Homo sapiens: one gene and its partner. The protein of the gene in region 2 interacts with the protein of the main gene of each other region in a biochemical or structural test. Each region holds a gene or a part of one and is shown on either strand. Other genes may lie near its edges. The genes, in order: CXCL14 and ROBO3.

Evidence for each region.
Region 1: the proteins of ROBO3 (region 2) and CXCL14 form a complex in vitro, tested with the Homo sapiens proteins (one large-scale study listed by BioGRID).

What each region holds. Positions count from the first base shown.
Region 1 is NC_000005.10:135,570,078-135,573,301, forward strand, and holds the end of CXCL14 (C-X-C motif chemokine 14 precursor), read right to left. Parts: intron 1,792-3,224; coding exon 1,776-1,791; 3' UTR 602-1,775; downstream 1-601. UniProt on the Homo sapiens protein: Potent chemoattractant for neutrophils, and weaker for dendritic cells. Not chemotactic for T-cells, B-cells, monocytes, natural killer cells or granulocytes. Does not inhibit proliferation of myeloid progenitors in colony formation assays.
Region 2 is NC_000011.10:124,871,615-124,875,431, reverse strand, and holds part of ROBO3 (roundabout homolog 3 isoform a precursor), read right to left. Parts: intron 3,052-3,817; coding exon 2,880-3,051; intron 2,549-2,879; coding exon 2,343-2,548; intron 2,123-2,342; coding exon 2,041-2,122; intron 1,736-2,040; coding exon 1,570-1,735; intron 1,363-1,569; coding exon 1,196-1,362; intron 645-1,195; coding exon 523-644; intron 322-522; coding exon 96-321; intron 1-95. UniProt on the Homo sapiens protein: Receptor involved in axon guidance during development. Acts as a multifunctional regulator of pathfinding that simultaneously mediates NELL2 repulsion, inhibits SLIT repulsion, and facilitates Netrin-1/NTN1 attraction.

The DNA of each region.
Region 1 (3,224 bases), on a different chromosome or scaffold from region 2:
GGCCCCATCTACTATCTTCTCTAAGTGGGAGAATATGAGTGATGTGCTCACCTCTTTAAGCCTTGGTTTCCTCATCTGTAAAATGGAGCTTCAATAGAACCACCCCCGTTGTGGTTGTTACCAGGATTCAAAGAGATAGGGCATGTAAGGCTCCCCGCACAGGGTCTGGCTCACAGTAGGCAATAATTACACCAGTCCTCTATTGTTGCCGTCCTTATGCAGCCCCAGGGAACTTGGAGAGCCCTTGGCTGAGGCATCCAGCCTCTTTGCTGCCCTCTGGTGCTGAGGCTCAGTGTGGTCTTGCGTGGAGGAGGCTGGGATCGTGACCCTCTAGTTCCCTGTGCTCCAACCTGCCTGCTCTGATACACCTGCTGCAGGGGTAGGAATCGTCGGGGAAGGAGCCTTAGCCTCAAGGCCTGGCTTCTTGGCTTCCTGACTGTAATGACAGCTCCACACGTTCCACAGAGGTGATGGTGTTGACAGGTATTTGGGAAATACCAGTTTTCTTTCCCAGCATATTTGTCCTTATTTTTTCAGGACATGGTAAACATTTTATTGTCATCCTAGCTTAATTAAATAGAAAAAAGGTGGCAGTCTAGAATTTTGGTACATTTCAAATATATTTTATTACTTTCCATCTTAGAAAGAATATGAAACCTGCATGCAATGCTAATGGTTTCTGACATGTACATAGCATATAACACAGCAGTACAATGCGGCATATACTGGGGGGCAGTGTGTGGAGGGGGCGTTCTTAAGGGTATATGTACAGAGGAAAGGGCGCATGGTCATCTTAGCTTTCGAAAGAGGACTGCACTGTTTAACATTGAAGAATTACATGGGGAATCACAAATATATTGCTTTAGTACTGCATGTTCTGTTGTGGTGAGGGAAAGAAACATGCTTTGAAGGTTTTCCCTTGTCAACAGAATGTGTGTCTGTAGCTGTGTATTGCGCATGTATTCATATATTTTTAAGTTTTCTCCTAAGGTTTTTGCTGACAGTGTTGGGAACCTCACATGCTTCTGAAGCATTAAATATTGAACCTGTGAACCTTTCAGAAATCCTCAGGTTGGGAAAGACCCCACACCTTCTTTAAGGATCATTTGTCTCGCCATCACAGGATCTTGGAAATGTTTCCTAGGGTGTGTAAAAATTAACCAGGGGGGAATGAAGCACATTTTTCTGGCAACCAAACTTGAGTTCCTCAGAGAACAGATGCAGAGAGACCTGCTCCTGCTTGCCCGGCTACAGGGGCCACTGTGGAGTCACACTGAGGCTGTGACCGGCCATAAGCCCAGGAGAGCCCGTGGCAGCTGTGCCGAGGCGCCAGGACCTCTAAGCGGAAGCTTCCCAAGCTAGGAATGGAGCAACACTGCAATGAAATGTGTCCACCAAGCTCATTGTTCCTCCCGGGCGCTTATAAAGCTCAGATGTATAGTGACGTATGGACAAATACAAAAAAGCATTTTTTAAAAAGGAAAGGCATGAGTTTTCCCCTTTTTGATAAAAAGCAGCCTGTGATGAAGTCTGGAGCACAAGAGAGATGGGTCTCCCATCTGGAAGCCTTTCGCACGCAGCTATAAAATGTAAAAACTGACCGTTGGTAAAAAGTGCTTCATAACAATATATAATTTGTGTCTTATGCCTGTGAGAAAGAAAGGCTTTTTTTTTTTTTTTTTTTTTTTTTTTTTTTTTTTTTTTTTTTAATCTGCAAAGTCCTTTGCACAAGTCTCCCAACTGGTTTGGAGTTTTCCCTTCTGAGGTTTTTCACCCTATTCTTCGTAGACCCTGGGGAGAAAAAACACATGTGTAAGTGGCTCAGGACATGAGGCAGGCCGTTCACAAGATGCTGGCTAAGCGGCTTCATTCACGTCTGGTCTGCAGGGAATGCCCCTGTCCCAGAACTGCAGGAACCCCCAGGAGAAGTGGGAGGGATCCTTCTGAGGATGTGGTCCCGGGGACCATGAAAACTCACACCAGTGTGGCTTTGTCTTTTCTAACCATCTGCAATCTCACTTCTGCAATCTCATTTTGTCCTCAGAGGCCTATGGAACAAACCCGCTTTGCATATGAGGAAACTGAGGCACCACAGACTTAAGATTTGCCCAGTGGCCACCGACTGTTAGTGGCAGGAATGTAGTCTTTCTCTAGCATGGCGGGCTGCTCCCACACCTCCTTGTTTCTTTCCGCGTCTGTACTCAGCCTCTCTATTTAGAGAAAATAGCAAGGGTGGGAGGCATTCCCTTACTTGACTTAGGCTTGTATATTTCTTTGTATTTTGCCCAAATAATGCATGTCCTCCAGAAGAATGCTAGCTCTAGAAGCTGCTTCCTGGAGACAGAAGAGGTGGTTGGTGGGGTGGGGCAGTGGTGCAGGAGGCCTGTGCCCCTCAGTCCCTGCTCCTGGCTGCATTGCCTCATCTCTACTCGTTCCCAGCCCCACCTTCCCCTCACCTCTCAAGCTGTGCCCAGTTAGATATTTTGCTTTCTTCTAGTTCTGCCCCATGGCTGCCCTGGGGCCATACGTTACACTTAGCCTATCACTTTTCTGTCTCGTTCTTGATTTCTGAGTAAGACCACTGAATTATCCATTGAAATAAAATGCCTGACTAGGCTGCTTCCTGTGGTGGCCAGAAGCTCCCTGGAAGCTCTGGTCTCTGAAGTGCACAGAGCTCCTCTGTGTGGCCCCCATGGGCCTGAGCCCACCGTATACCCTTCTACTTCCTCCAACCTAGCTTTGGCATTCTCTTTCTCTCTCTCTCTGTACAAAGAGGACTTCAAACACTTCCTTTATCACTGTTCTATGTTCATTAAGATATTTTCAACTTGTTTCAGGGGAGGGAGGTGGGGAGGGCAGGGACCTCAACACTCTAAGAAAGAGGGGTGAACTAATTTTATAGCAAAGTGAGAGAAGGCCTGGTAGTGAGAGGCTCTCGTTGCTTTTGTTATTGGAATTTTCAGGAAAAAAAAAAGCAGGGCCATGTTTAGACCTGTGGGTGCCTCCTTTTCCAGGCTGCAGCTCAGGTGGAGGGGAGAAGCAAGGTGAGCTAAAGGTTTGAGTATCCCCCAGCAATCAGATCAAGATGCCCTCAGCCTCTTCCATAACCTGCCCATGGGATTAGCCTTCTGCCAGTTTTGATGACACAGGGCCTGGAGGGTGACAGAGTGTGGACTGCGCAGTTCTGGCCTTTGCCACATGAGCTGCCTGGCTTGACCAGAAAG
Region 2 (3,817 bases):
CCTGCTCTCCTCCTGCAAATTTTCATCCCCCCTCCACCTCCACCCCCACCCCTTCTTCCCTCTTGTCCATCCATCTGTTCGGTGGCCCTCCTTACCCTCCTCAGGAATGCTCCTGGTCACAGAGAGGCTTTCAGCCCCCAGCCCCTCCTGGCCTTGGGCTTGCACCTTGATCTGGATTTGGGTCCCTGGAGGGAGTCCTCTTAGCACAGTACTTTGCTGGCTTGGGGACTGTAGGTCCAACATTGTCCAGCTTCCTCCCTCAGGGCCTGCTACCCTCCAAGACACCCGGAAACCTTGCACCAGCTGGACTGGGCCATCCACCTGTGGGAGACAGGACAAGGCACACCAGAAGGGGAGGCTGGGGCCATACAGGCCCTCCAGGCCATCCAGGCCCAGCCCCTCCTCCCACTCATGCCGCCTTCCCCAGCCACTCACCTCCCACTCTCCCATACTCACTCTTGGAGGCCCTCATGTGCCTCATAATCATCCCCACCCTGAATCTCCTCCCCATACCACACTCACAGTCCAGGACACCTGCAGGGTCCGGGGTCCCAGGACTATGGGCTCCTGCAGGCGCACAGCCACTTCCGCCAGTCCCTGCTGGCCTCTCCATGGGTCCTCCACTGGCCTAGAGGGGCTGCTATCTGTTGACCAAGGAACCCATTCAGCAGAGGCCACCAGGGACAGGGAGATAGGGCTGAGAGTGTGCTCGTGTCCTACCTCTGCCCTGCTCCACTTAGTACTCCAGAGCACACCCCATGGTCAGGAGGGGACTGGTCAGGAAAATAGCTTCCAGACATGGGCCTCGGTGTCCAGCTAGCATAATTACACATGCATCCTTTAAAGGCCTCAGTTCCTCATCTCTAAGATGAAGATGGCCCCTCCATGGTCCCTTCTAGTCTTAATAATCTATATTATTATCTATGGGTAAAAGGCTCAGAAGTCAGAAGCTGCCAAAATGAATGACTACCTCTCTCCCTTTCCTTCTTCCCTCCTCCCCTCTCCCTGCCTTCCTCCTCCCTTGTCTCTTCTGTGAGAGGCAAACATGATCTCCTATTCCAGGCCGGGCCACCAGTATAGACCTGGCATAGCAGGAAAGAACTGTATGAACTGCCGTGGTGTCATGGTTTTGGGGGAGAGGGTTGCTTTATGATGTTACATTTCATGCTCATGAGCCCAGGGACTCTGACCTTACCCTGTGTACGGACAGGCTCAGAGACGGGGCTGGGCTCACTGAGGCCCCAGGCTCCCACTGCTCGAACCAGAAACAGGTAGATGGTATTGGGCTGCAGACCGCTGACTGTGTGTGTCTCCAGCTGCACGCCATCTGCCACAGTACGCCATGTGTTGCCAGCTGCTGGGCTACAACAAGAAGGAGATGACAGGGTTGTCTAAGCCAGGAACTCCCAACCTGCCTACTCCATCTCATCCACTCTCTATGAACGACCATTATGTCTTCCCCTTGCAAGAGGGTACTGGAGAATCCCACCTCACAATAGCAAAGACCCTAAGGGCATAGGATCCCCTCCTTTTAACTCTCCAGGTTTGCATTCAAAACTTTCTCCATACCTGAAGGCCTCTATCACATAAGACGTGACTGCAGCCCCAGTTTGTGGGTTGGGCTTCCAGGTCAGGGTAATGCTGTTCTTGGTGATCTCAGTGACCACTGGCTGAGAGGGAGCCCCCGGAGGGGAACTGGGTTCTGTAGGGGGGTCTGGTGATACTCCCCAGTCTTCTGCAGTGGGAGATAATCTTTAAGTAGAAAGATAGGGAAAGGATAATCCTAGTGTAACCTGTCTCCTTACCAGGGGAGCTATGGAGCTCTGAGCTGCGGTGATGGTCAGAGTGGGCTATAGTATATGAACCCCTACTCACATCTGCCTCCCATGGGTACCACTACTGTCCTTCTCATCCTCACCACCGTAACCATGGCATTTGTGACATAAAGTTAATCCCGGAGTTTGAGGAGGTATCGACTACCTGTTGAAGCAGGTTTGGAGGAAGGTATTATCAAAATAAGGGAAGAAAGAAAAAACTCACCCCGCATCTTAAGCCAGCCGCTCCATGTGGCTTCCCCTGTGGAACTCTTGGCCACGCAGCTGTAGAAGCCCATGTCCATCTCCTGGAAGAGAGGGCAGAGCACTGGCAAACTGAGAGTGGAGCAAGATCCAGTGAGGGGGTGGAGGCGGGTAGCAGAAGGATGGGAAGATGTTGGATACTAGGTGCTCTGAGAGAACAGAGGGGTAAAGATGGGGCTACAGGCCCAGTGAGTACTTACTTGTGTAAGGAACGTGGAGCAGATAGCCATTCTCAGCTACTAGGGCCCCAGGGGTGACACTCACCTGCACATTGGCGATGTACAGGGTACCGTTGGCCATTGTCTTGAACTGGAGGTCATCCCCCTGCAGCCACTGCCCATCCTTCTTCCATCGGACACTGGGTTGAGGGTTCCCAGTCACTCTGCAGGGCAGCCACACGGAGGAGCCAAGCACCAGCGTCTGATTGGCTGGTCCCTGGAGGATGACAGGAGGCAGCCCATCCAAAGAGGCTGAGAGAGGAAGAACGTGTGCACCTCAGGGGAGGAGCTTAGGGCCCCGCGGGCAGCCCCTTGTCCTCATTCTCTGCTCCTTCACCCTCCCTACCCCAGCCCCTGAAACTTCCGGTGATCAGAGGGGGCTTTGATAATCATCTGAAGTCTCTGCCCAGGACCAGCCATTATTAGTGGCTTCTGCTGCTGGTTTCCAAACTTCAAGGTCATGCCTCAGGAACACATCTCTCCTCTTGCAGACATAGTATATAGACTCCAAGAGAAACACATCACTTTAGGCCATTATTTCCTCCCAAGCCATGGATCCAGTCCTATCTCCATGGGCACGTACCTCCTTTTATCTCCAGCAGGGCCTTGGCCAGGATGCTGCCAGCCACACTGACAGCCTGGCACACGTAGTACCCAGCATCCCCACGCTGCACCGCGGTGATGTTAAGTTGGCCTCTTGGAGACACTGAGAAGCGCCCCGTCGGCTGAAGTGACTGACTGGGGAAAAGCAGGACCTGGGGACAGAGCAAGGAACCAGGGTAGGGAATGAGCAGGCAGCTGGGCAGGGAGAGGTCCCCATTCCTGTCAATCTCAAAATTCAGAGAATTCCTATGATTCTAGTTCATCGTCTGTCTCCAGCAGTGATGTGAACTTGGGCAAAGTAGTTAAATGTATTCACAAAAACATCAGGGAATTTTATTAGACAATTTCAGAGTCTACTTCCCAGCTCCGTGACTTACTAGTGGGGAAACCCTGAACAAGCTGTTTAACCTGCCTGAGCCCCAATTTCCCAAATTTGACTTCTAGAGGATAGTTATAAAGATCACATGAAGTAATCATATGAAAGTCTTCTAACACGTTGTGGTAAACACATTCCTCTTCTTCCTGCTTGAACAGTTTTCATTCCATAGATCCATGGAAGATAATCCATTAGATTAGACAGGGAAGCAGGTTTGGGTCTCAGGACAAAGGGCACCATGCTGAGACCCTGGGTAACACCTGCTTCACCCCTACTAACCGTCACCCTTTTTATTCATGTGAGAATCTAATTAGAATTCAGCAGTCCCAGGTGCTAGAAAAGATGTTAGAAAATTGTGGCTGTCGATTTGGAATGAGGTAGCAGGTTGCCTTGTTTTCCAACAGAGTGGAGCTCATCATACTTACTTTATCTTGCTGACCCTGTTTCCAGTAGCAAAATTCCTACCCTTCCTTTAGAGAGAGTTATTTATGTGGTAACTTCAGTTAATGTTCATTCTGCTTCTGGATTTTGAGATTTGTTTG